4 linked regions of the Homo sapiens genome follow. The protein of the gene in region 4 purifies or fractionates together with the protein of the main gene of each other region. This does not show direct contact. Each region holds a gene or a part of one and is shown on either strand. Other genes may lie near its edges.

Region 1 (8,012 bases), on a different chromosome or scaffold from region 4:
TTGCAGTGAGCTGAGATCATGCCACTGCACTCCAGCCTGGGCAACAGAGCGAGACCCTGTCTCAAAAGAAACACACACAAAAAACACAAACACACAACCCCTGACTCTCTTTGAAGACTCAGTGTAGAGGAAGTCACATGTGAAAGACCCTGTAAAAGAAGTTAAGGGTTTCAGATATTATGCTGTGAACAGCGGGAAGACCCCAGGGGTTAACATGGGGGGAGGAGGTGGAGGTATTTGCACTTATGCATCTGAGAAGTGGGGCACTTCCAGGAGCCCTGTGTGTCCAGAGGAGAATTTCTCTTGCCCCAAATTTCCCTGCTGCGAGCCACTTCTGATTTCTCCAAGGTGTTGTTTTGTGAGGCTCACTTAGTCATTTTCTTTCTGGCCAAGGAGGTAGAGCACTATCCCTGCCTGCTTCTCGGGAACATATTGTCCGTATTGCTTGTGACTCGCAGTCAGAGAAATATTCTCTGTGCTTGCTAGAGTGTGTTTTAAATTAAAGTGCCAGGGGATGTGGAGATGGTCATTAATTTTAAGTGCATCTATTGTTAGCAAATGATGTCACCGCTGAGCTCTCCAACTTGTCACAAGAAGTCTGGATATATTTCGGGTTTCTGTAGCAGGGACAGTTCCTGTTTTGAAGTGTGCAGGCTATGAATACGGTCTGCTTTCTGTGAGGAACGGTAGAGCTTTTGGTGCACGTTTAAAATGATACTGGCTGTTGGAAGCAAACATTGTGCCCCAATGAGTCAATCAAGTTTCATTTTTTTTTCAAGGTAGGAGGAATGGCAAGAAGTTGACTGTTAGTAATTATATAAATATCAACCTCTGTTCTTTAGAACCTCTTCGAGGTAGGAAGTCATGTCCTATTTATCACAGTGTTCCACGTGCCTTGCTCCAATTTTTTTTATTGCTTATTTATTGAATCTCTTATAAAAGAATTTTCTCAAAGACAAAGAGCATGCTATTATATCCCTCATAAATATCTCTCGAGCGTTTTGAAGGCACACAGTGTATGCCTGTTGGTTGACTGAACAGAGCAAGTTCCGGTTTTTGAAAAGGTGGAATAAAGAGGAAGAAAACTCCATTACTCCTGTTTTAGATGATCTGGTAAAATGTTCTCTATCAGCATCGCATACAGAGGTCTATTACATAGATCATCATATCTCAAATAATTAAATTCACTTGAGGGTCAGAAAAAAACAGATTCTTTGTGTAGAATCATTTACTGAAGAATTTAAAGGATTTTTCCTTGGGCTATCTCAGTCAGATTGGAACAGCTAGAGCCAGGGAAAATATTTCATAACGAGTCTTCTTGGTATATTAAAGTGCACATAACAGAGCGAGAAACTTTGAAAAATAACTTCAATATCCATAATCCTATAATTCCAAGGCATTTTTCATTTTTTCTTTTTCCTTTAGGAAGGTGGTTTTTTAAAGGGACTTTTGTTTTTAACTAAATGAGCTTAAAATAATGTGATTAGAAACCACTGTAGGCTGGGCACGGTGGTTCATGCCTGCAATCCCAGCACTTTGGGAGGCCGAGACAGGCAGATCACCTGAGGTCAGGAGTTCAAGACCAGCCTGGGCAATATGGCGAAACCCCGTCTTTACTAACAATACAAAAAATTAGCTGGGCGTGGTGGCAGGTGCCTATAGTTCCAGCTACTCAGGAGGCTGAGGCACGAGAATCACTTGAACCCGGGAGGCGGAGGTTGCAGTGAGCCAAGATCCATGCCACTGCTCCCCAGCTTGGGCGAGAGTGAGACTCTGTCTCAAAAAAAAAAAAAAAGAAAAGAAAAGAAAAGAAAAAACCACCGTACGGTGGCTCACGCCTGTAATCCCAGCACTTTGGGAGGCCGAGGCGGGCAGATCACGAGGTCAGGAGATCGAGACCATCCTGGCTAACATGGTGAAACCCCGTCTCTACTAAAAATACAAAAAATTAGCCAGGCGTGGTGGCGGGCACCTGTACTCCCAGCTACTCGGGAGGCTGAGGCAGGAGAATGGCGTGAACCCGGGAGGCGGAGCTTGCAGTGTGCCGAGGTCGCACCACTGTACTCCAGCCTGGGTGACAGAGCGAGACTCCATCTCCAAAAACAAAACAAAACAAAAAAACACTGTAGCACTGTAGCTTTTGGTTATCACACCAATGAATTCATATCTGAAATTAGAATAAGAAAATCACCAAGAGGACTATTTCATATATTCGGCTCAGGAGTTTTGTTTTTAGGAAACAAAAATCCCCACCACCTGCTGTTTTCTTGCTTTCTCTATCCCCTCCCCCACGATCACAGGGTCAGTGAAACCTGATCAGAAGTGTCCAGATACCGCTGTCCCAGAAGCCACTTTAAAGACTCTTTGGGCAGAAGCTCTGTGGCTTCCACCCCTCTTCCCAACCCTTGCACCCACCGGCAGGAGAACTCACCATGCAGAAGCAGGACCAACATCCCTCGGCCTTTCATCCACCCAGTGGCTTAGGACCACCCAGCCGTGGGACCCCTACCTGAGGGGAGAAAGGACAGGTCACCCAGTGCCCAGGAGGGCCCCATGAGAACCCTCCCATGCCTCCACACTTCTTCCTGAATGCCCTGCCTTTCTTTCTTCCTCACATTCCTTCCTTCTTAATGACCCTGGTGTTGGGCTAAGGGAAACCAGTAACAACAGAAAATCAGAAGCTCCCCACAAATGGACAGTTTGGATCTATTAGGAAACCCTTTGTCAGGCTACAGCCCTGACAGCAACTCAGATGGCATCACTGACAACCCAGCAAGGAAATGGATGGAGAGGAAACCCCTGCAGAGAAGCGTTAGTGAATGGTCCTCAAATGTTGCTTACCGTCCTGGGAGTCTCCCTGGTCCTGCTCCTCTGAGGTCCCCCTCCACTCCCTCAGCCCATCCATCTCCCAAGTCAGGCAGCCACAGATGCTGAAAATGGTTTGAGAGAGAAGTAAAGGTGGGGGTGGGGGGACGGGAGGAAGGGGTGAAGAGGAATAGTTACTTGTGCAGGTTTGAGTGCTTATTTTTCTTTCTCCAGATTTAATGGCAGGAAAATCCTCTGTATCACATGAGGATTAACAGAGATGAAAGAATGTGTCTGCCTTTCGAATCACTAAAGCCAGTGACAGATTTTGCTGACATACCAATCGGCTTTATCCCCGGGCCTTGACCACCCTGGCCCTCCTGTCCTCTCTCCATCTGCCTGGCCCCTTTCTCTCCTTAAACCTTCCCCAGACCCTGCCCCGTTCCCTGACCCCAGCCCCAGCCCCAAGCAATATGTAGCCTGAAATTGGCTTCCTGCCACCCAAACAGCATTATCAGCATTTTCAACAAGGACGCATTATATAACTTGGAGAGCTGGAGAAGGGACAGGACAGCTTAAAATGTTTCCCCAAAATGCCGGCTGCTGATTTCCTTTCTTTGAAGTGGTTGATGGTGAATGATACAAAAACGGACTGGAGAGAGTCCTTCCACTACAAGAAGGCAAGAGGTTCCCACTGGGGTTAGGGCTGGTAGTGGTGGCCTAAGGCAGTGGGTCCAGGAATGGGACCTTCAGAATCTGGCTGAGGTTTCTGAAACCCACCAGGACTCAGTTTAGGCCCTGGCTACTCAGTGTGGCCGGTGGACCAGCAGCAGTACCTGAGAGCTCGTTAGGAAAACAGAATCTCAGCGCCTTCTACCCCCCGCCCCAGACCTGTTGAATCAGCATCTGCTTTTTTTTTTTTTTTTTTTTTTTTGAGATGGAGTCTCACTCTGTCGCCCAGGCTGGAGTGCAGTGGCACAATCTTGGCTCACTGCAACCTCCACCTTCTGGGTTCAAGCGATTCCCCTGCCTCAGCTTCCTGAGTAGCTGGGACTACACCATGCCCAGCTAATTTTTTGTATTTTTAGTAGAGACGGGGTTTCACCATGTTGACCAGGATGGTCTTGATCTCTTGACCTTGTGATCCACCCGCCTCGGCCTCCCAGAGTGCTGGGATTACAGGCGTGAACCACCGCGCCCGGCCAGCATCTGCATTTTAACTAGGTCGGCGGAGAGGGGGATTCCTGTGCCCGGTAAAGTTTGGAAAGCCCTGTTTTAGGAGACTGGTGGAGGGGGTCTGATCAAAATGAGGGTGGCAGGGGGGCCTGTTTATCTAGCCTTTCTGGCCAGCAGTTCAGGTGCCCCCACATTCTCCTGGCCCCAGCAAGCCTCTGCTGTCTGCTGGGACAGCACTTCCAGGTATCCATGGCAACCTGCCAAGTTCTGGCCACGCAGGACTTGGTGAGCCAGTGCTGATGAAAGGAAGCCAGGAGTTCCCTTCCCACAGAAAGGGTTCTGGATGTGAATCTAGACATCTCAGGCCACCGTGCCCTGGGGAATTTTTGTTTTCTTCCATTTGAGCCTTGAAAGCCAAAATGTGGCTGAACTTGTCTAACCTGCTGGAAAGAAGAGAATACTAGGGATGGGGTAGGGATGTGGGTGGGGGAGGCCTCTCAAATGACATCTCTATCCCCAGTGTTGGACTCGCCTGGCTTATTAGATGAGAGCAGTGGGCAGCCCTCTCATTGTGACCACCAGTGTCGGAGGTGTCCCTGTAGCCATCACCCCAAGCCTTAGCCCAACGAAGCCCCCACTCCCCCAGCAGCAGTCCAGAGGCTGAATCTCGACTGTAAGAGCCAACCTGTCTGCACCCACAACCTTTGTTCGCAGCTTATTGGTCCAACCTTCCCTTCAATCTTCTCCAGGCCAGTGGGCCTGGTGCTCTGGCACTGGGATCCCACTAAGGAAGACCTTCTTCTCCACCTGTGAACTGAAACATTTCTCCCAAGTGGAAAATAAGGAGGCATCAGAGACTCTTGGCATAAAAAGGAAGGAGCCCATCCACCAGGTGAGCTGGTACCACCGACTTGGGAGGATGAGCAGCCCTTAATCAAAACCTTGCTGCAGGGAGAAAAGCAGGTGGCCCAGGGTTGTTACAGGAAATGCGATTGACTGACTTCCCCTGGGAGAAACTTAAAGCTCAAGACAGGAGAAAGGCCGGCCCTTTCAGAGCCTACTCCAGCCACTCGTGGGCTGCTGGGGGAGGGATTTTTTCGTTTTTGTTTTTGAGATGGAGCCTTACTCTGTCCCTCAGGCTGGAGTGCAGTGGCGTGATCTCAGCCCACTGCAACCTCTGCCTCCCGGGTTCAAGCAATTCTCCTGCCTCAGCCTCCTGAGTAGCTGGGACTACAGGTGAGTACCACCACACCCGGCTAATTTTTTTTGTATTTTTAGTAAAGATGAGGTTTCACCATGCTAGCCAGTTTGGTCTCGAACTCCCGACATCAAATGATCCACTGGCCTCAGCCTCCCAAAATGTTGGTATTACAGGCGTGAGCCACTGTACCTGGCCCTCCTGGGGTGGTTTTGTACCCATGCTAGTTCTCACTCATCATGCAGTTGGTAGCCCATAAAAGGAGCTGAAGGAGGGAGAAGGGGTGTGTAAGTGACCTTGAGAAATAGTGATGGCCCAAGATGCATGATTTTGCCAGCCTCCACCTCCTGGATTCAAGCCATTCTCCTGCCTCAGCCTCCCAAGTAGCTGGAACTACAGGCGCCGGCCACCATGCCTGGCTAATTTTTGTGTTTTTAGCAGAGATGGGGTTTCGCCGTTTTGGCCAGGCTTCCCCACCTTGGAATTGGTAAGAATTACCGATTAATTAAGACAGCCGGCGACTACTGGAGGCTTTGCCTGCTATCTGGAGGACACAGATTTGCCCTCCAGCCTTTCTGCCCTGTAGTGACAATTCACAGACACCCCAACCCTGGGTAGCCCTTCCTGGGCCTTTGCTTTGCTCCTTTCTTTCCCCACTTCTCCACCTGCTGAAATCTCAATCTGCCTGCTATGCTTAGCATAAGCGCTACCACCTCTAAGAAATGAATCCCCTTCCAGTGCCCTCCTTTCTCACTTGCAGGCATCTGCCTCGAAGTTCACAGTGTTTGTTTGTTTGTTTGTTTGTTTGTTTGTTTGTTTGTTTTGAAACTGAGTCTCGCTCTGCTGCCCAGGCTGGAGTGCAGTGGTGCGCTATCGGCTCACAGCAACCTCCGCCTCCCGGGTTCAAACAATTCTCCTGCCTCAGCCTCCGGAGTAGCTGGGATTACAGGCACGCGCCACCATGTCCGGTTAATTTTTGTATTTTTAGTAGAGATGGGGTTTCACCATATTGTCCAGGCTGGCCTCAAACTCCTGACCTCAAGTGATCCGCCCACCTCGGCCTCCCAAAGTGCTGGGATTACAGGCGTGAGCCACCACGCCAGGCCTGAGCCACTGCGCCCAAAGTTCATAGTGTTTGGATGGCTGGCCTCCTTGGAGGGGCTGTGCTTGATCCAAGTCTGCACTCCCACAATGTCTGGCTGGTGTCGCCTTCAGACAGGGCAAGAGGCAGGGAGACACAGGGCAAGGAGTCATTGAGGCCAAGACACTTACCCACCCAGAACCACGTTCTGGATACCTGCGACCTGGGAATTCACTGCCCAACAGGTTCTGAACCCACTCCTCTAGGTCCAGTCTCCTGAAGGTGGATGGTCTCACCAATGTGCATACTCGAGAGGTGATCCTTTAGGGGGTAGACAGTTGCAGAGAAGGGGACAGAGCTTGGATATGAGGACGTGCGTGGGAAAGATCCGCTATAGCATGGGATGGATCCGGCCTGGGAATAGAGGGAAGCTACGCCATGGCCTTGAGCTGGGGCCACTCTCTGTGCCATCACACCCTAGCCCAGAATGCTGAGGAATGCAAGAATTGCAAACTTGAATTTAACCTTCCAGATTGTTATGAAGGTATATCTGCTCAGATAGGAGGATAGAACATGTTTTATTTAACAGTTTTTTAGCTTGATGTGTAGCTTTTAAATATTCAGACATACAGTGTGTGGTCCTCCGTGCGTACTCTTGCCCCAGGCCCCACAAAGCTGGGCCCAAGCCTGGGTTTGGCACACAGGCGGAAGTGCACAATTGTTTGCTGAAGGGAATTGAAGCCCATGTGAGAATTTGTAAGGGAGCTATAGAAAGAGAACCGGGTGAGTGACAGCCTTGGCCTCTTACCCTTCCTTTTTCTCTGACTTACTGGATGGTGTCAGGACAGGGACTTTCAGTTCCTAGGCCTGATTGTACTCGAAACATATTCCATAATCTTGTCCAGACCCCTCATTCTTCAAGTGAGGAAACTGAGGCCCAGAGAGATTAAGTGACCTGCTCCCCAGAGTGACATATGAAGGTGGAGCTGGGACCCAGTGGGTACCCTGTCCTCCTGCCTCCCAGTCCCTGGGTTTTTCTCGGGTCCTAATAAGGACACACACAGCCCCTGTGGCCACCCCCGACGTCCCCACTGCATGCCTCAGATCAGGATGGGGGAGGGGTAGCCACTCCCCTCTTGCTGGGCACCTCTAAATGACCTTGGCTGAACCTATTCTGTGGCTAAAGCACCCAACTCCCTTGTTCTTTATTCGCAAACTATCCTACTTCTGTCGTTTCACATCCGCCCTTCCAATCCAAACCCCAGCTCAGTGGGGTTGGATTGGATCAGCCTGGGCTCCCGGGCCTCATTTCTGGAATTGGAGGAAGGAGGAAGAGAGGCGAGAGTGCCCTCATTCCGCTGACTCCCAGTGTAGTGACAGTGACGTCGCCCCAACGGCAGGCCCGGACACAGTTAGGTGCGGGCTCGCGCCCCATCTGGTGCCCCGGGGCTCAGGGCGCGCCGCCGCGGTCCTGGAGGGGCAGTAGGCAGCGAGTCACTGGGCTGGACGTTTCCGCTCTGGCTCCTCCCTCCGCGGGCTTCAGAAAACTAGTTCAGCTCGCTGGCCCCGGCTGGCAACCGTGCGTGACACAGTGGTTTTTTTTTCCCATAAAGGTCACGTCCTTGCGAAACCTCTGCAGCCTCTGCCGGTAACCACCACCCCGGCCCCACCCTGGGGAGAAGGGGCGGAGCCTCCGGGGCGAGCCACGCCCCCGATGAGCCCGGTCCTGCCCAGCGTGGCCGCCAGAGGGCA
Region 2 (7,024 bases), on a different chromosome or scaffold from region 4:
GAGCATGAAAAAGGGAACACAGAAAAAGAACACCCACTACTTGGAGTGGCCCTGGTGGATTCTTGTCCCATTCTTACCAAATATAGTCGAGTGCTTGACAAAGGCCACATCCCCAGCACCATCCTTCAGACACCTGGGTCAAAGAAACACATCAGCAGGGCTCCTGCAGGGCAGGCCCTTCTCCTGCACCTGGAGAGTCTGATCACACTGTCCAGCACTCACACTAGGATAGAGCCTGGTGCAGCCCCGTAGCTGAAGCAACACCATGGTGTGCAGACCTCCAGCGTAGTGCTGAGATGGGGGAATGAGCTCACACGAGATAAAAAGCCCTCATAACCCAAAGAAGCAAAATGCAACTGAAGATATTTTCATGTGAAAAGAGCTTTTAAACTTCTGGAATAGAAGATAATGGTATAGTGTCTCCTGAGGGTGAAAATGTGCCTTTGGCTGGTTGTAAAACTTTAGGATATAATCAAGGTAAAAAGAGAAAGCAAGAAATCAGCTTCCCAGATAGAGACGGTGATGGGGGCAGGAGACAGGCAGTGTGCTGAGCAGGTAACACTGCTGAGATTGAGGGAAGAGGGCCAGTCCCTGGACAGTGGGCCCAGACACTAGAGGCATGATTGTCCTTTCAGGCTCTGCCCGATCCACCGAGAGGAGACACTGACCAGGCTTGAGGGCTCTGGGGAGAAAGGAAGGGTCCCCAGGAAAAGGACCTACTTGTCAGGGTCAGATGAAAGGGAACATGGGCTGGCTTGGCCTAGGAGTCCCAGGTTGTGCTTCTGACTCACTGGGAGGGGATTAGGCCACCTCGATGCCCCTGTAGGCAGGCAGGGCTCGGCTTTGGACCAGCAAAGAACTCTCACCCTGAGGACATTTGGCACTTTGGCCACCATGGAGCAGCAGACATCTCACTCACTTGAAGGCTCCCGAGTAGCCGAAGTATTGGTTAAGGGTGGAGCAGCCACACCCTGGACACAGTTGACACAGCTGGGGGAAGTCCGTCCCATCCGCACAAGGGGCACAGCTGCCCGAGAAGAAATTGGCCACTGCTGCTCAGCACAGAGAAATGGACAACAGAGCATGAGTGAGGCTGGCCACAGCCAATGGCATCACCCCACCCAGGCCCATCAGGGAACAGAGGGGACTAAAACCAAACCAGCACATGCAGCCCCAGCTTGCCCTTATGCTAACTCATCAAGATCAAGGATTTCTAATAGGAACAAGTTGACCTCTGTCTGGCCACCATCCATCAGAGGAAACAGGCCTATGCTTCCCACTAACCAAGGCCTATCTCGGGTCTTTCTCAGAGCACCTTCTCCCTGCTTTGTCAGAGGCTGGAACAGCTCAGAGAGAGGTCCCCTCTGGGATCCATGCCCCAGACATGAGAACTGCTTAAGAGAGGTGCAGGGCTCCAGAGAAACCTCCAGGAAAGAAATCCAGAGAAGTGGACAAGAGAACCACCATCGCCTAGACTGAAACCCTCTGCCGAGCCTTGCGCCCTTTCCTCACTCATCAGAACAGCCTCTGCTGGGGTTTTGGAAGCTCAGAGCAGAAAAAAGCTCAGCTCCACCTCCCAAGTGCTGCTGGTGCAGCAGACCTGCCAGTTTAAAGTCTGTTAACCTCTTTCCCCCACCTGAGTTCATCCCACATGTCTGCTGATGGTGACTGTCTAGTGCAGCCTGTGTGGGCATCTGGAGCAGAGGCAGCTGCTCGAGGGCACCCAGACTCCTGCCAGCTTACCTTTCTCAAGAGGTTTACGTGGCTCAGGTAAGTCACAGTAAAGTAAGCCTATGGGGATGTTCCACCCAGCGGACCTGCCTAGACCCGTGTGGCAGGACTTCTTGCCTCGAAGCTGGTTCATCTGGAAGCCACTATCCTTCTTCACCACAGCAACAGCATAATAGAAAGTCTGTGGATCTGCAAAGGCACAGTGTGAATGGAAGGCCCTCAGCCTGGTGCAGGGAAACATGGCTCATCACCACCGGACTCTTGAGGAGGGAGGGGAGCGGAGAGGCCATGCTTTTACTGGACTGGGCGATAAGGAGTGGGGAATCAGGAAAACCTTCCTAGGGTTGCAGGGGAGAGAGAAGACCATAGAAGGAATATTTATAATATTACCCCTCCAGGCAAACAGGGGCAAGAAGGCCACACGCACATGTGTCCTGAATGCTTTGCCTCCCCTGGCCCTGCAGCGTGTCTGCCTACACCTACCAACCTCAGCCACCAGGAAACTGGAGCTGTGGTAACAGAGGCCCATCAAAGTATTTCATGTCCCCTGGCACAGGCCCAGAGACAGTCAGGTTGATCTCAGAAGACTTGCAGGGCTGCTGGCCTCTGAGTGTGTGCTCCAGAGTGACCCCTCCTGTGTGAGTGGTACCTATGGCTCCAGAGGCCTCCAGGGACCCTAGACATATCAGTAGACCGCAGTAGCCTTCAGGTCAAGCTGCACACAGCCTGCTGTGTTTCTCTGATAAGCATATGCCCCTGGCCCAGGGCTCAGTTTTAGGAGCACCAGTCCTCAGCCAGCCCAAAGCCCCCAGAGGCCTTGATGTGTGGCTGTGGCAGCTGACAGGGCCCCTCATTCTCTACTCACTCTCCAAAGATGAATGTTCATTATATCTGATATCCAAAACCTGCCTGTAAAACACAGCACTCAGCATATAGAATAAGGATGACAACTCCTTCCTGGGGTCCCAGGGAGAACTTACCCTCTTTTGACCCATAGAACTCTGCCACCACAGGCTTCAGGTTATTGGGAGCCAGGTAAGCATCATACACCAAACCTGCATCCAGTGTCACAGCATCCGCTTCGTTTGCCTGAAAGAGAACAGGCCAGTCCTGGATGAAGCCTTGACTTCCAAGGAAGGCCCACCTCAACCCACACAAGTAGAGAGTGGCTACCAGGACTCCACGGACCCAGGGCCAGAACTTGACTAGACCACGCACAGCCCTGCTGGCTTCAGTTGACTCTGTCTCCCTCGCAAGGGCACTTAGCCACCACATTCCTATTCCTTCTGCATAGAGGGAGTGATGGATTGTGTTTCTCTTTTCCCCGGTGAGGTGCCCAGCTCCTGGCCAAAAATCCTACGTGACTTTACCGTAGGCAATTACGAAGGCTTAACCTGGCAGGCTCCGTGGGAGAAAGCCGCCCTCGCCACCCCAGACTCAGAGCACAGCCAGTGCAATGCAGTCTCTGGAGGGGACTCTGCTGTCAAGGACACAGCTCTCTTGGGCTGGCCACGCTCTTCTTACACCTGTTTTCATTCCTAGCCCATGACCTTTGCTCAGAGCCCTCTTTATTTTGAGACTTCCTTTGAGGTCTTCCTCAGGTGCTTCTGTGGAGATTTTTTTTCTGGGGGAAGATGGGAACCTTGAAAACATTCGTCTTCACTCTGACTCAGTACTCAATGCTCTTCCTTCCTGTCCTGGGTCCATAAAACTGCATGACCCTTTTGCTGAGGGATTGGGCACTTTCTCTGGGTTTAGCTTCTTGGTGATACTATGTACTGAATGATCAAAAGCTTGATTATTATTTCCATTTTTGCTCATCTCTGGTATAATTGTCTACTCCAACACATGGGCAGCTCATCTCTCTTTCTCTCTCAGCTCCATTTTACAAGTGAGAAATATGAGGCACAGAAAGGTTAAGTCACTTCCCTGGGCCACATAGCCAGTAAGTCATGGAGCTGGGATTTCAGTGCAGACATTCCGGGTTTATTTCTTATCATTACACTGTTACTTCAGGTTATGTTCCTTTTTGACTTTGTGCTTCTGTAAGCCCTCATCTTTACATCAACAGGTCCCTTGAAATATTATAGCTGCCTTCTTACTAGATCTATAATTTATTTTCTTTTTATGTAAATCCTTAAAGTGAGCCCAACCATCTTTTATTTAGACACTTAAACACATAGTTTTACTCCTTTTTTGTTTTAAATGTCTTTAATCAAAATGATTTTTCCAGAAGCCCTTGCCAGTTCTCTATGAAGATTTCTTATTGATCAAATTACAAAGCAGGCCAGGTATAGTGGCTCATACCTTGTACTTCCAGCACTTTGGGAAGCCTAGGCAAGTGGATCACCTGAGGTTAGGAGTTCGAGACCAGCCTAGCCAATATGGTGAAACACTGTCTCTACCAAAACAAACAAACAAAAATTAGCTGGGCTTGGTGGCACATGCCTGTAATACCAGCCACTTGGGAAGCTGAGGCAGGAGAATCGCTTGAACCTGGGATGCAGAGGTTGCAGTGAGCCGAGATTGTACCACTGCACTCTAGCCTAGGTGACAGAGCAAGACTCTCAAAAAAAAAAAAAAAAATTACAAAGCAAAAGCTATAGTTCCATGAACTTTGTTGTGTTACAATCAAGTAATAAGACAATAGTATTTCTAAATGAAATAAAATATGTTGTAAGACAAACTATATCAGCAGTCTCGCTCTTGTCCCTCAGGCTTGAGTGCAATGGCTCAATCTCGGCTCACTGTAACCTCTGCCTCCAGGGTTCAAACGATTCTCCTGCCTCTGCCTCCCAAGTAGCTGGGATTAAGGCGCCTGCCATCACACCCGGCTAATTTTTGTATTTTTTTTAGTAGAGATGGGGTTTCACCATGTTGGCCAGGCTGGTCTCAAACTCCTGACCTCAGGTGATCCACCCGCCTCGGCCTCCCAAAGTGCTGGGATTACAGGCGTGAGCCACCGCACCCAGCCAATTTTAACCATTTTCAAGTGTACATTTTAGTGGCATTAAGTACATGCATTCACGTTGTTTTATAGCCATCACATCTATCCATCTCCAGAAACTGAAACTCTTTACACATTAAACAATTACCTCCTATTTCTCCCCCACTCCAGCCCCTGGTAGTCATTATGCTACTTTCTGTTTCTATAAATTTGACTATTCTAGATACTTCATAAAAGTGGAACTTTGGGAGGCCGAGACGGGCGGATCACGAGGTCAGGAGATCGAGACCATACTGGCTAACACGGTGAAACCCCGTCTCTACTAAAAATACAAAAATTAGCCGGGCATGGTGGCGCGCGCCTGTAGTCCCAGCTACACGGGAGGCTGAGGCAGGAGAATGGCGTGAACCCGGGAGGCGGAGCTTGCAGTGAGTCGAGATCGCGCCACTGCACTCCAGCCTGGGCGACAGAGCGAAACTCCGTCTCAAAAAAAAAAAAAAAAAAAAAGTGGAATCTTACAATATTTGTCCTTTTGTATCTAGCTTGCTTCACTTATGTTTTCAAGGTTCATCTCAGTGTAGCATATATCAGAGTTTCATTTATTTTTAAGGCTAAAAATATTTCATCATTTGTGTTTACCACATTTTATTTATCTATTCACTCATCAATGGATATTTGGGTTGTAAAACATATTTTTAATATACCACAATACAAAACAAAATTAACAGACATCATGGGCCTTTCTGTTCCACAACAACTAGACCTTATATATGAAACACACTTCGTGGTTTTGTTTAATCTGCAAACACCTTCCCTTCCCCAGTCCTCACATTGTTGAATAAAAATGAAGCAAACAGGGTGCAGCACACCAACATGGCACATGTGTACATATGTAACAAACCTGCATGTTGTGCACTTGTACCCTAGAACTTAAAGTATAATAAAATATATATATATTTTTTAAAAAATGAAGCAAACAAACGAGAGCTTTGCCCATTGCAGTGGGGTTGGGAGAGTGGTCAGGAACCTGGTCTTTCTTTGCCAAGACACCAAGAAATCACTGGTGCCTCGGGGGCTCAGGGAGCCAAAGAGCTAAGGCCTAAAACACAGCGTCCAGCCCTAGAGCTGCAGGGTTCCCAGGGGAACCTGCGCCAGCTGGGAGGGACAGGATTATAATCAAGCAAGCTCTCACAAGTCAAAATAACCAAACCCAGAAGAGGGAAAGCTACAGAGAGAAGGCTGGAGGGAAGCCAAGGGGAAGCCAGCAGAAAGACACGGAAAACCCCAGCGCGGGGATTGAGGGAAGCCAGGCTGCATCTGGATGTTTCTTCCACCTTTTCCCTTCGGCTAACCTACTGCTTGCTTTGTGCTGAGAACTGTAGAATTTCCCACACTTGACACATCTGTCCAAACCTCTGCACTAAGAGACCTGACCAGACTCTGGCATGGCTCCTAGCAGAACAAATCTGTGTCCCTAGGATGGCCCGGTTCCCCTTAAAGTGCTTGCCTGAGAAAACTCAGTGCTGCCAGGAAAATGTACCTGTTTCTTCTACTCAACACACAACTGATGATAGGCCCCTGACCTCCCTTTCCAAGAGAATTTACTAAAAAGGACTTAAAACTGTGAATATGTATCTCTTGAAACTCACAAGCATCTCTCTCAAGGACTGAGAGCCATTCCTTTGCAACACAATCATCAGGATGGATAGAGTGTCTGTCTCGCAGTCTCTGCGGGAGAATAGAGTCCTAATCGAGAGAACTGCCAGCTATCAGACACAGCTGGCCTCCTCACATTTACACTGACCAGCCCTTTCTACCTTTTTACTTCTCTGACTCTACAGAGCCCTGCGTTCTCCCCTCCCTCATTCTCCCTTTAAAATGCTCACATCACCACTGCACAAATCAGAATGGAGCCTAGCTCTTTCCCCCACTGTCAGCAGTTACTGAATGAAACCTATTGTCACTGCCTAAACTAATATCTGGCTGTGCTTATCTTTGACAGCTCCCATCACCCTGGCCTCCCACTAGCAACTTAAATAAGCCCACTCTGCTCTGCCTCAGGCCCTTTGCATATGCTCTTGTTTGCTGCCTGGTGTATTTTACACTGGAGCCCACCCAGGCTCAGTCCTTCATTACATCTCTCTCAGAGAGATGGTCTCTGACCACCCAGGACAAAGCAGGTTTTTCTGTGAGTCCCTGTCAGAACACTCTCCTTTTTCCCTCCATTGTACATCCCCACATTTTGGAATTAGTAGTTTACTTATTCGTGTGTTTTTCTGCTCTCCTGACTAGCCCATGAGCTCCCTGAGGGTAAGGACCAATGTGTTTAATTCACCACTGCAGCCC
Region 3 (7,024 bases), on a different chromosome or scaffold from region 4:
TCTCTAGCAACTTTGTGGAGTTGCCATTCCTGCCTGGGGCTGTCTATTGTCGGAATTCTTTTAACTGGGAGAGAAATAAACTGCTTTGTATAAAGAAAAAAATGGGGGTATTACTCCAATAAATTGAAGTGATCCTAAAACAAAGAATACAGGCCTAGGGAGAATAAAGCAGGCCAAACTACGTGGTGTTTTTTTTTTTTTCCAAACAAATTTAATTCTGTTCCAGCCCCAAAGAAGAGGAAGGACCTAAAGTTCAAAAATAAAAATAAAAATTGCTAAAAATAAAAGCCATTACAAAATTAAGCCCCCTCCTTTAGCAATAAATACTGAACTGATATATACATATGAGGCTTAGGAAGGAGGCAACAACAGGAACCTTGGGGACTCTGTCCCATGGCAAGATCCCAAGACTTCTACCAATTCCATGCTCTTTGCTTAAAACATAGAGAGCAGTGGAAGAGACAGGAGAGATATGCCAGAAGAGTATGTGGCCCTGTAGAGAGCTGGAACATGATGAGGACAGAGGAGAGAGAAGAGATACGAAGTGTAATACAGGCAGGGAAAGAGAAAGTCTTCATTTAAAACATTCCTCCCATCCCTGCTGAATCACTGGATGTGGCTGGACCGGCTGTCCAGAGCCTTGTCTCCTCTCCTCCACTCCCTGTTGAGCATGCAAGTCAAAGGTCATTCACACTGTGGTCGCGATGCCACTGTGGCAACAGCCTGGCTGCTGGATCCCTGAGGCTTCCCATTCACCACTAGCAGGAGGGGCGTCTCCACTCGAACACTGGAAAAGGAATAGTCCTAGAAAAGACAGACAGACAAAGGTTCACTACAGATTCCAAGATGGAAAAAGCTCCAGCATGGGGATACACCACTTGCAACTTTCTGCACCACCTCCCCTGTTGTATACCCCCTCTACTTCCATCTCACATCAGACAAAACTGAGCTAACACAGGGGACGAAAATTTCCCAAAGTTTTCAATCTTCAGAAGGAAAACATGGAGCATGTAAGGTCATGTAGTGCCACTACAAGAATGAGACAGCTCTTTGATCCAAAAAAGGCAGGTTCCTGGCATTGCCTAACAAAAGAATGCAACCAACTCTCATAGAATCTGCCTTTTCCCACGGTGTTTCCTGATAATTAACTAGATACACATAGCAGCCGGCCAGAGCCAGTGGGAATCCTGAGAAAATCTCAGTCCAAATGTTTATAAGGTCCTAATTTAATCCACCAAATACAAATTAAAGTTACTTCTCTTTTATATCAAGAGGAGGAAATAGAACATGAAACAGAATGTAGCCGTTTTCCTAATAACAAAAAAGGTATCAGCTCACTGTATCAGTTTAAGTGTATTTTAAGTTGTAAAACATATTAAATAGTCTTCATCCAAAAAATATGGCAATGAGAGGCAGGCTCTTTTAAGTCCAAGTAAAGTAAATTTAAAAGTTCTCATAAACCAATTTTTTTTAAGTCTTCACAGAAATATCAACAAGTGACACAAAAAATGGCAATTTATACAAGAAATATAAATTAATATTCATGCTATATTTTCCATGTAAAATTAGAAAATAACTTTTCAAAGGTTTCCAACCAGAGTTGAGAAAAAAACTACAGAGAAACACTTATTTACATCCACTGTTGGTAGTGACAACTAACTAGTACAATTTTCCAAAGAATTATTTGGCAATATGTATCAAAAGCCTCAGAATTCTGCATACCCTTTGGACCCAGGAGTCTACATTAGAAATTCATTTAAGGAACTAATCATAGATACAAGCAAAGATACAAAAATCCTCACTGTGTTTCTAATTTTTTTTCTATTATAAAAGTACTAATTTAGATCGGAGGTCATCAAAGTATTTCTGCAAAGGGACAGATAGTAAATATTTTAGGCTTTGTAGGTCATATGGTCTCTGTTACAGAACAAGTCACCTCTGACACTATAGTGCAAAAACAGCCACAGACAATAGTAAGCAAATGAGTGTGGCTGTGTTCCAATAAAGCTTTATTTGTGGACACTGAAATCTGAATTTCCTGTAATTTTCACATATCACAAAATATTACGCTTCTGTCCATTTTTTTCACTTAACAACACAGAAACCACACTCTTGTTTTTCTTTTTTTTTTGAGGCAGACTTTCTCTATCACCCGGGCTGGCGTGCAATGGGACAATAATGGCTTACTGCAGCCTCAAACTCCTGAGATAAAGTGGTTCTCTCACTTCAGCCTCCTTAGTAGCTGGGACTACAGGCATGTGCTACCATACCTGGCTAAGTTTTTTAACATTTTTTTGTAGAGACGGGGTCTCACTATATAGCCCAGGCTGGTCTTAAACTCCTGGGCTCAAGTGATCCTCCCACCTTGGCCTTCCAAAGTGCTGGGATTTTACGCATGAGCCACCATGCCCAGCCTAGAAACCATTATTAATAAACACAAGCAGTGAGCCAGATTTGGTCAATGGGCTTTGCCAACCTCTGATCTAAATGGTTAAACAGTAGTTAAATATCTACATTCATAAGGTTTTTTTAAGAATTGAATGGGGCAAGGCAGGTAATAAAAACTCTTAGCACAGTGTCTAGCACTCAATTAAGTGTTAAATAAATGTTAACTATCATTACCATCTTCATCACCCCGTGTCTACTCAATGTGGTGAAATATGTAAAAACATAGGAAACATTCACAAACATTTGCATATAATATCCCACTCATGATTTAAAATATAGATATATGTGTATATATTTGTGAAAAGAAAAGACTTCAGGTATATACACCAAACTGTTAACAGTAACAGTTAAAAGGCAGTAATACCTGAGTGATAATATTTCACTGCATTTTTTTATTTTTCTGCTTACCAGTTTACCTTTTTAGTAAAAAAATACATATATATATATAAATAAAACATATACACACAAATATATATACACATAGCCTACACACATACTTACATATAATTATTTCTATATCTTTTATAAAAAGATAAGCTTGGTTCTACTTTTAGAGCCTACGAGTTGTAAGAGAATCCTAGCCATTGCTCACCTTTCCTTTGTGCTGAATTCGGTGAAGCCGCAGGTTGGGCTCAGGAATGGCTACAGAGTCTCCAATGAGCACTCCCCAGCTCTGCACTATATTGTACACCATCACTGCATAGCAAGGTCCATCTGAATCTACCAGGCCAAATGTACTACCAAGTAAAGACAGATTAGGAGAGAGGAAAACAAAAAGGTATGTGGGTAGGAAAGAAGAGCAGAAACAGTGGTTTAAAAATACTAGCAAAATACTGGACTTAAAGTCAGTGACAGGTAATTAAAATAAAATATAAAATTTAACTTAATTAAACTTTAAAAATAAAATACTAACAAAATAAACAAATGCTTTTTCTCAGTTACTCAGAAAACCTATGAGAGGTACCATCTTCCACTTTATATATCTGAGTCTTCATTTTTCTGAAACTCATCAGTCACTTTGCTAAGAACTTAGGACAAAGCACACTGAAGCCATTCAACAAATATTAATGATGAACTAGACCAACATGTTACAGTTGTAACATTATTCCTGGTCTATCAATTTAACTATCATACTCTTAACCAAAGCCTCTAACCATCACTGTCTGTGTAGTTTAACTCCACAAACTTTCACTGAATATTACATATGTGCCAAGCATTGTGTTTAGCAATAAGATACCAATCCAGCTATGAATGACCTATAGTCTAGCAGGAGTCAGACAATGAAGTCATCACTTACAGCACAGTGTGATGGGTGCTAGAATAGCTTTTCCCTTGTGCTGAATTCAATGAAGCCACAGATTGGGCTGTGGGAGCCCAGAGGACAAATATCTAAATCAAAATTGGAAAGCAGGGAAGATTTCCTGGAAGAGGTGACGCTCAAAGTGAATCTTAAAGGGTAAAAAACCAGCTGGGTTAAAAGAGAAAAATTAATCCTCGGTAAAAATGTTAAAAACCTCTGAGGGGATAGGAACAGAGATTTTGACTTGGAGGCAACATCAGGGAACTTCCCAGAATGGTGGTAATGATCTCTATTTGGGTTATACAGATATTTTCCATTTGTTAAAAGCTATGAAATGTACGCTTAAAATTGTACATTTCATTGTATGTAAATTTTACATAAAAAGAAAAAATTGAAACAAATACTGAACTCAGTTAATGACTGCATGCTAAAGTATGTAAAGTATATTGATCTCTGCAATTTACTCTGATAGCAGGATAAACAGACTGATATGTAATAAGCTAAGTAAAATAAAATATTAATGGTAGAATATAAGTGGATGAGAACACAAATGTTCAATGTAAAACTCTTTCAACTTAGCTATATGTTTGAAAATTTTTATACAAAATGTTGGGGGCAGAAGAGGATGTTAGCTATGTCAAGAAGAAGCTAGAGATTATCCAGGCAGAGTAACTGTATGTAAGACACAGAGGCATGAAAACAGCTGTTCTAAAACCAACAAAATTGTTCCATGGTTGAAACAAAAGGCACTGGTGGGAAAGAGACAAAAGATAATAGAAAGAGAAGCAGGGAGCAAATCATGAAGGACTTTGTATGCTAACCTAAGTAGTTCACACTTTATCCCAAAAGCTACATATAGTACCAGTAAGGGATCTTAAATAAGAAGTAGCAATGGTCAGATTTCCATCTAAGAAACATTTCTCTGGCAGCACTGTGGAACACTGGAGGAAACCAGAGAATCAGGGAGACCTATCTGGAGAAGTGATAAGGGGGTGAATTAAGGTGGTAAACACAGAGAAGTCAAGTCTATAGGACAAAAAAGGCAAATCTTTTTGGAGAATGGAGAAGCCTATTCTTCCAAAAGTCTTAATCAAGTGACTGAGAGGTGATACCATTCATTCACAAGGAATCCAGGGAGGAGAAGCAGGTTTACAGAGAAAGATTTAGGTGAGTAATACTGAAATACTGAGTTAGAGATTTCTTATTGGAACCCAGAAGCAGATGGTTATAGGAATCCAACACTTGGAAATGAAGCTTGGGCTGGAGATATATCTGTAAGCATATAGGAGGCTGCCAAAGCCTTGGGTTTATATGACATCACAGGGCAAGATGATCTATAGACAGGATGGAGAAGAATCACACTCATGCCATCACGTGACATGCCTGAATTCACAGGAAATATTGCAATCAAGCAAAGCACTCTCCTGATGAATCCAGTCAAAGCCTCAGAATCCTTCTACACAGTATGTCAGGCAACCACTGACAAGTGATCAAAGTTGGCAACTATAGGCCATCCTGATATAAAGAGAAAAAAGGAAAAAAACAAAAATAGAGTCCTGGGAACCTAAGATTTAAAAGTTAGGCAGAAAAAGAGAAACCAAGGAGTGGCAAAATATCTATTTGTTCTCAAGGTCCTCCAAAACCTACCTTTGTCTATATCCCTTTCTAATTCTTCTCAGCTCTAGGATTTGCTCTAGTAAACTAAACTGTTCTCAACTATCTTTTTGCCCTTCAACTCGTCAAATATACAAACCCCTAGAAAATGCCATGGAGAAAGCTTGGGCATATAATGGGAATTGTGAATATTTCTGTTTAGATGAACAGAAAGGATGTGAAAAGCAATAGTGAGAGATAAGTCAGAATGTTTTGGAACCATGCAATAGAAGTTGCTGGATCCAGTGCCTAGAAAGACAATGGTGATCCTAGGAAAATAACAATTTCAGTAGAAAAGAGAAAGGGGAAACCGGTCAACCAGGGATTAGGAAGTGAGTGAAGGACCAAGGAGTGGTGGCATTCACTAAACCGTAACTTTTCAAGATCCAAAAATTTTCTAAACAAATATTCTTAATTCATTTCCTCTGCTGCTAGAAGCACCTGCACCTGGGTCCTTTACATTTCTTTTTTCTCACTCCCTATGACACATATATTACACACTCAATAAATATTTGTTGAATGACATCTAAGACAATCTCCCAACCAGACTTTAAATTATAACTCAAAGCTCACTTTTCAGAACTAAGTATACCTAAGTACAAACAGGACTAAGAAATTTGTCCTCCTTCAACTTCTATGATCATGAAAATGCAAAGGGACAGAAGAATTTTGAGGTTTCTGTCTTATAAAAAAATATGTCCTGCCAAATTTCAACTATGGATATAGGAATCCACATAGCACCAAACTCAGGGATACAAAATGGGCAGTGACAGAATCTACAAAAGCCTCTGATCAAAAGATGGTTAAACATCACCCAGACAATATCTGCCCACGGGATAGTCACAGAAGGAAATCAGAAGTCACAAATCTGTGACCACTGACAATCTCCTCAACTGCCAGGGAAAGAACAGGAAGTGAGAGCAATTAGTTCAAAAGGGTAAAATGGGGGAAATCCAAGAGAAACTCACAAGGGGACTTTCTCCTCTGTGGTGAGGCTAAATACCACCTTTCCCAGGATGACGGCACCGCTGTTCACCCCAGGCTGAAGCGTACTCAGTGGCTTGAGCTCCAGGGTCACTTTCTGCCCAGAGGCTGACTGATAGTGCCCATCACTGCAAGGGCCTAGATGGGCTGGGCGCAAGCTTCCCAGCATGCTCTGCAGCTTTTTGGTCTTCACCTTTCCCTGCAAAGAAGGGGAAATAGGTAAGAAGCTGGAAACTAGTCGCCTTCCTTGAGATTCTAATCCTTCCCTCCCACCCACTTCTATAGGGTCTCTACCTCGTAAACCTATTTATTCTTATTTTATTGACCCACGACAAAATAAAAAAAAAAAAAGTGGAATTCAGCCCTTCAGACATTTTTACCTTACTCTCAAGGAGGCTGGTTAATCTATCCAGGAATTCCAGAAGTTGTTGCTCTCGTTGCCGGGGCTCTGGCCAGGCAGGGTCCAGGGCTGCAGCCCGAGAGAAGCCCTCCAGGGCCTCCCCATAACTCTCTTCATATTTATGCAACTGTACAAGAAGTGTATCCCAATTATAAGTATATCCAGACAAACTATCCCGAGGGAATGGCACCATGGGCTAGGAATCTAGAGAAATAAACTGTTTTCCTTCCTGGTTATTT
Region 4 (7,024 bases):
ATAGGATATGGCTTACTTGGTGTTTCTATTTATAGATGAAACTGTTTCAAGTCAAACCTTTCTACAATTCTTTTTGTTCTTTATTTTTCCTCTGAAATTTGCAAAAGCTATTCAGCTTCAATTAATTTCCAGGCTTTTTTGACTACTCTAAAGTATGACTTCACTGACCTTTGTCCTAACTTTCTGATTTCCAGAACATTAGTTATTTTGCACTGATTACTACAGTATATTTAACCTTCAATTCTCTCTTTTCTACTCTGGAGTTTTGACCAATTCAGTTTCAGCTCCTGCCTAAGTTATCTTACCTGTAAGTATTCTATGCTATTTCCAATTCCTAATGTCCTTTTGACAAAAAGATCAAAATATTTTAACCAACACTTCATTACTCAATAACAAATATTTAATAAATATATAGTAAGAGCCTACTGTATGCAAAGCATTTTCAATTCTTTAATTTCCTTGCCTTTTCCTTCTCCAGCCTTCCTCAACTGATGCAAGTCATTTGTCCTCCACAAGTCTCAATCTTTTCTACTTAACAGACAAATCTGAACGGTAGGGTGATCATATTTAAACAGTGTCTGCTCTCATTGATCAGGCCTTAATATCTGATATCCTCCCAGACTACAGATTCCCATGATGACCCTTAGGATAATTTTTATTCCAAAGCAGTGTAGTACAGTGGAAATTGGTCTTGGAGGCAGATGAGTCTGAGTCAAAATTCTTATTCCAACATTTTGGAGTTATGACATCATCGGAAAATTACTCTGTTTCCTAACTATGAAATAGTACCCTTCTCTGCTGAAATATAACTAGGAAAATTGGCTAAATAGAAAATCTAATGTGCTCTGTCATCAATCATATTGTAAAACTTTGGGTACAGCCATAAGACTCTCTCCTTTCCTTTTTGGAGTACTAGAAGTGTCTAGACAAGGGCAAATAAATCTCATTTGAAGAACATGACTGTTTAATGAGACTCCATGCCCTTTAAGAGAGGGAAAGAACTAGGTACTCTTTGTAAATGTAAGGGAATATTTAAAAAGAGAGGGCTTATCAGACACGAGCAATGAAAACATGTTCCTCTTTAACACTGGATTGAAGGAGATGAGTGTCCACTGTTAAAGCCATAGATCTAAATTCTCCTTTTCTCCATTTACCAGAGAAGAGAGAAGTACCCATAGGCAAAAATCAAAGTAAAACAAAACAAAACAATGAGAAAGCATGAATCCAGAGATTCAACATCTGGTAGCATGGAACATTTGTTTCGAAAGAGCCAGTACAACATAGTAAAGAAGATCAGAGACCTATACCCAAGATGTATTCTCAGAAGGTGACAACATGAATGAGTAAAATTGAGGGGAGGGGGGAACGACTCAGAAAAGCAAATCTATAAGGAAATGTGTTTGACTCATTCTTGTCATTAGAAAGAAATGACCCCAATAAACGTACATGTGCATGTGTCTTTATAGCAGCATGATTTATAGTCCTTTGGGTATATACCCAGTAATGGGATGGCCGGGTCAAATGGTATTTCTAGTTCTAGATCCCTGAGGAGTCGCCACACTGACTTCCACAATGGTTGAACTAGTTTACAGTCCCACCAACAGTGTAAAAGTGTTCCTATTTCTCCACATCCTCTCCAGCACCTGTTGTTTCCTGACTTTTTAATGATTGCCATTCTAACTGGTGTGAGATGGTATCTCATTGTGGTTTTGATTTGCATTTCTCTGATGGCCAGTGATGGTGAGCATTTTTTCATGTGTTTTATGGCTGCATAAATGTCTTCTTTTGAGAAGTGTCTGTTCATGTCCTTTGCCCACTTTTTGATGGGGTTGTTTTTTTCTTGTAAATTTGTTTGAGTTCATTGTAGATTCTGGATATTAGTCCTTTGTCAGATAAGTAGTTTGCGAAAATTTTCTCCCATTTTGTAGGCTGCCTGTTCACTCTGATGGTAGTTTCTTTTGCTGTGCAAGAGCTCTTTAGTTTAATTAGATCTCATATGACAATTTTGGCTTTTGTTGCCACTGCTTTTGGTGTTTTAGACATGAAGTCCTTGCCCATGCCTATGTCCTGAATGGTAATGCCTAGGTTTTCTTCTAGGACTTCTATGGTTTAAGGTCTAACATTTAAGTCTTTAATCCATCTTGAATTAATTTTTGTATAAGGGGTAAGGAAGGGATTCAGTTTCAGCATATGGCTAGCCAGTTTTCCCAGCACCATTTATTAAATAGGGAATCCTTTCCCCATTGCTTGTTTTTCTCAGGTTTGTCAAAGATCAGATAGTTGTAGATATGCAGCGTTATTTCTGGGGGCTAAGTTCTGTTCCATTGATCTATATCTCTGTTTTGGTACCAGTACCATGCTGTTTTGGTTATTGTAGCCTTGTAGTATACTTTGAAGTCAGGTAGCGTGATGCCTCCAGCTTTGTTCTTTTGGCTTAGGATTGACTTGGCTATGCGGGCTCTTTTTTGGTTCCATATGAACTTTAAAGTAGTTTTTTCCAATTCTGTGAAGAAAGTCATTGGTAGCTTGATGGGGATGGCATTAAATCTATAAATTACATTGGGCAGCATGGCCATTTTCATGATATTGATTCTTCCTACTCATGAGCATGGAATGTTCTTCCATTTGTTTGTATCCTCTTTTATTTCATTGAGCAGTGGTTTGTAGTTCTCCTTGAAGAGGTCCTTCACGTCCCTCGTAAGGTGGATTCCTAGGTATTTTATTCTCTTTGAAGCAATTGTGAATGGGAGTTCACTCATGATTTGGCTCTCTGTTTGTCTGTTATTGGTGTATAAGAATGCCTGTGATTTTTGCACATTGATTTTGTATCCTGAGACTTTGCTGAAGTTGCTTATCAGCTCAAGGAGATTTTGGGCTGAGAAAATGGGGTTTTCTAGATATACAATCATGTCATCTGCAAACAGGGACAATTAGACTTCCTCTTTTCCTAATTGAATACCCTTTATTTCCTTCTCCTGCCTAATTGCCCTGGCCAGAACTTCCAACACTATGTTGAATAGGAGTGGTGAGGGAGGGCATCCCTGTCTTGTGCCAGTTTTCAAAGGGAATGCTTGCAGTTTTTGCCCATTCAGTATGATATTGGCTGTGGGTTTGTCATAGATAGCTGTTATTATTTTGAGATACTTCCCATCAATACCTAATTTCTTGAGAGTTTTTAGCATGAAGGGTTGTTGAATTTTGTCAAAGGCCTTTTCTGCATCTATTGAGATAATCCTGTGTTTTTTGTCTTTGCTTCTGTTTATATGCTGGATTACATTTATTGATTTGCGTATATTGAACCAGCCTTGCATCCCAGGGATGAAGCCCACTTGATCACGGTGGATAAGCTTTGTGATGTGCTGTGGGATTCGGTTTGCCAATATTTTATCGAGGATTTTTGCATCAATGTTCATCAAGGATATTGGTCTAATATTCTCTTTTTTGGTTGTGTCTCTGCCTGGATTTGGTATCAGGATGATGCTGGCATCATAAAATGAGTTAGGGAGGATTCCCTCTTTTTCTATTGATAGGAATAGTTTCAGAAGGAATGGTACCAGTTCCTCCTTGTACCTCTGGTAGAATTCGGCTGTGAATCCATCTGGTCCTGGACTCTTTTTGTTTGGTAAACTATTGATTATTGCCACAATTTCAGAACCTGTTATTGGTCTATTCAGAGAGGCAACTTCTTCCTGATTTAGTCTTGGGAGGGTGTATGTGTCAAGGAATTTATCCATTTCTTCTAGATTTTCTAGTTTATTTGCATAGAGGTGTTTGTAGTATTCCCTGATGGTAGTTTGTATTTCTGTGGGATCAGTGGTGATATCCCCTTTGTCATTTTTTATTGCGTCTATTTGATTCTTCTGTCTTTTCTTATCAGTCTTGCTAGCGGTCTATCAATTTTGTTGATCCTTTCAAAAAACCAGCTCCTGGATTCATTACTTTTTTGAAGGGTTTTTTGTGTCTCTATTTCCTTCAGTTCTGCTCTGATTTTAGTTATTTCTTGCCTTCTGCTAGCTTTTGAATGTGTTTGCTTTTGCTTTTCTAGTTCTTTTAATTGTGATGTTAGGTTGTCAATTTTGGATCTTTCCTGCTTTCTCTTGTGGGCATTTAGTGCTATAAATTTCCCTCTACACACTATTTTGAATGAGTCCCAGAGATTCTTGTATGTTGTGTCTTTGTTTTCATTAGTTTCAAAGAACATCTTTATTTCTGCCTTCATTTCGTTATGTACCCAGTAGTCATTCAGGAGCAGGTTGCTCAGTTTCCATGTAGTTGAGTGCTTTTGAGTGAGTTTCTTAATCCTGAGTTCTGGTTTGATTGCACTGTGGTCTGAGAGACAGTTTGTTATAATTTCTGATCTTTTACATTTGCTGAGGAGAGCTTTACTTCTAATGATGTGGTCAATTTTGGAATAGGTGTGGTGCTGAAAAAAATATATATTCTGTTGATTTGTGGTGGAGAGTTCTGTAGATGTCTACTAGGTCTGCTTGGTGCAGAGCTGAGTTCAATTCCTGGATATCCTTTTTAACTTTCTGTCTGTTGATCTGTCTAATGTTGACAGTGGGGTGTTAAAGTCTCCCATTATTATTGTGTGAGAGTCTAAGTCTCATTGTAGGTCACTGAGGACTTGCTTTATGAATGTAGGTGCTCCTGTATTGGGTGCATATATATTTAGGATAGTTAGCTCTTCTTGTTGAATTGATCCCTTTACCATTATGTAATGGCCTTCTTTGTCTCTTTTGATCTTTGTTGGTTTAAAGTCTGTTTTATCAGAGACTAGGATTGCAACCCCTGCCTTTTTTTGTTTTCCACTTGCTTGGTAGATCTTCCTCCATCCTTTCATTTTGAGCCTATGTGTGTCTCTGCATGTGAGATGGGTTTCCTGAATACAGCACACTGATGGGTCTTGACTCTTTATCCAATTTGCCAGTCTGTGTCTTTTAATTGGAGCATTTAGTCCATTTACATTTAAAGTTAATATTGTTATGTGTGTATTTGAGCCTGTCATTATGATGTTAGCTGGTTATTTTGCTCGTTAGTTGATGCAGTTTCTTCCTAGCATCGATGGTCTTTACAATTTGGCATGATTTTGCAGTGACTGGTACTGGTTGTTCCTTTCCATGTTTAGTGCTTCCTTCAGGACCTCTTTTAGGGCAGGCCTGGTGGTGACAAAATCTCTCAGTGTTTGCTTGTCTGTAAAGTATTTTATTTCTCCTTCACTTATGAAGCTTAGTTTGGCTTGATATGAAATTCTGGGTTGAAAATTCTTTTCTTTAAGAATGTTGAATAGTGGCCCTCACTCTCTACTGGCTTGTAGAGTTTCTGCCGAGAGATCCATGGTTAGTCTGATGGGCTTCCCTTTGTGAGTAACCCGACCTTTCTCTCTGGCTGCCGTTAACATTTTTTCCTTCATTTGAACTTTGGTGAATCTGATAATTATGTGTCTTGGAGTTGCTCTTCTCGAGGAGTATCTTTGTGGCGTTCTCTGTATTTCCTGAATCTGAATGTTAGCCTGCCTTGCTAGACTGGGGAAGTTCTCCTGGATAATATCCTGCAGAGTGTTTTCCAACTTAGTTCCATTCTTCCCTTCACTTTCAGGTACACCAATCAGACGTAGATTTGGTCTTTTCACATAGTCCCATATTTCTTGGAGGCTTTGTTCGTTTCTTTTTATTCTTTTTTCTCTAAACTTCCCTTCTCGCTTCATTTCATTCATTTCATCTTCCATCACTGATACCCTTTCTTCCAGTTGATCACATCAGCTCCTGAGGCTTCTGCATTCTTCACGCAGTTCTCGAGCCTTGGCTTTCAGCTCCATCAGCTCCTTTAAGCACTTCTCTGTATTGGTTATTATAGTTATACATTCATCGAAATTTTTTTCAAAGTTTTCAACTTCTTTTCCCTTGGTTTGAATTTCCTCCTGTAGCTCGGAGTAGTTTGATCATCTGAAGCCTTCTTCTCTCAACTCGTCAAAGTCATTCTCTGTCCAGCTTTGTTCCATTGCTGGTGAGGAGCTGCGTTCCTTTGTAGGAGGAAAGGCACTCTGCTTTTTAGAGTTTCCAGTTTTCCTGCTCTGTTTTTTCCCCGTCTTTGTGGTTTTATCTACTTTTGGTCTTTGATGATGTGATGTACAGATGGGTTTTTGGTGTGGATATCCTTTCTGTTTGTTAGTTTTCCTTCTAACAGACAGGATCCTCAGCTGCAGGTCTGTTGGAGTTTGCTAGAGGTCCACTCCAGACCCTGTTTGCCTGGGTACCAGCAGCGGTGGCTGCAGAACAGCGGATTTTCGTGAACTGTGAATGCTGCTGTCTGATCGTTCCTCTGGAAGTTTTGTCTCAGAGGAGTACCCGGCCGTGTGAGGTGTCATTCTGCCGCTACTGGGGGGTGCCTCCCAGTTAGGCTGCTCAGAGGTCAGGGATCAGGGACCCACTTGAGGAGGCAGTCTGCCCATTCTCAGATCTCCAGCTGCATGCTGGGAGAACCACTGCTCTCTTCAAAGCTGTCAGACAGGGACATTTAAGTCTGCGGAGGTTACTGCAGTCTTTTTGTTTGTCTGTGCCCTGACCCCAGAGGTGGAGCCTACAGAGACAGGCAGGCCTCCTTGAGCTGTGGTGGGCTCCACCCAGTTCGAGCTTCCAGGCTGCTTTGTTTACCTAAGCAAGCCTGGGCAATGGCGGGTGCCTCTCCCCCAGCCTCGCTGCCACCTTGCAGTTTGATCTCAGACTGCTGTGCTAGCAATCAGTGATACTCCATGGGCATAGGACCCTCCGAGCCTGGTGCGGGATATAATCTCCTGGTGCACCATTTTTTAAGCCCGTTGGAAAAGCACAGTATTGGGGTGGGAGTGACCTGATTTTCCAGGTGCCGTCTGTTACCCCTTTCTTTGACTAGGAAAGGGAACTCCCTGTCCCCTTGCGCTTCCCGAGTGAGGCAATGCCTCGCCCTGCTTCGGCTAGCACATGGCGTGCTGCACCCACTGTCCTGCGCCCACTGTCTGGCACTCCCTAGTGAGACGAACCCGGTA

The links.
Region 1: the proteins of STPG2 (region 4) and NYX purify together in Homo sapiens (affinity purification with mass spectrometry; 3 studies listed by BioGRID and IntAct, with this or other methods). This does not show direct contact.
Region 2: the proteins of STPG2 (region 4) and TF purify together in Homo sapiens (affinity purification with mass spectrometry; 3 studies listed by BioGRID and IntAct, with this or other methods). This does not show direct contact.
Region 3: the proteins of STPG2 (region 4) and TTC5 purify together in Homo sapiens (affinity purification with mass spectrometry; 3 studies listed by BioGRID and IntAct, with this or other methods). This does not show direct contact.

What each region holds. Positions count from the first base shown.
Region 1 is NC_000023.11:41,442,346-41,450,357, reverse strand, and holds the start of NYX (nyctalopin precursor), read right to left. Parts: upstream 3,016-8,012; 5' UTR 2,842-3,015; exon of another isoform or gene 2,510-2,841; 5' UTR 2,454-2,509; coding exon 2,432-2,453; intron 1-2,431.
Region 2 is NC_000003.12:133,749,391-133,756,414, reverse strand, and holds part of TF (serotransferrin isoform 1 precursor), read right to left. Parts: intron 2,821-7,024; coding exon 2,712-2,820; intron 1,921-2,711; coding exon 1,744-1,920; intron 1,053-1,743; coding exon 920-1,052; intron 134-919; coding exon 78-133; intron 1-77. UniProt on the Homo sapiens protein: Transferrins are iron binding transport proteins which can bind two Fe(3+) ions in association with the binding of an anion, usually bicarbonate.
Region 3 is NC_000014.9:20,288,943-20,295,966, forward strand, and holds part of TTC5 (tetratricopeptide repeat protein 5), read right to left. Parts: intron 6,913-7,024; coding exon 6,766-6,912; intron 6,585-6,765; coding exon 6,370-6,584; intron 3,186-6,369; coding exon 3,041-3,185; intron 805-3,040; coding exon 685-804; 3' UTR 1-684. UniProt on the Homo sapiens protein: Cofactor involved in the regulation of various cellular mechanisms such as actin regulation, autophagy, chromatin regulation and DNA repair.
Region 4 is NC_000004.12:97,559,467-97,566,490, forward strand, and holds part of STPG2 (sperm-tail PG-rich repeat-containing protein 2), read right to left. Parts: intron 1-7,024.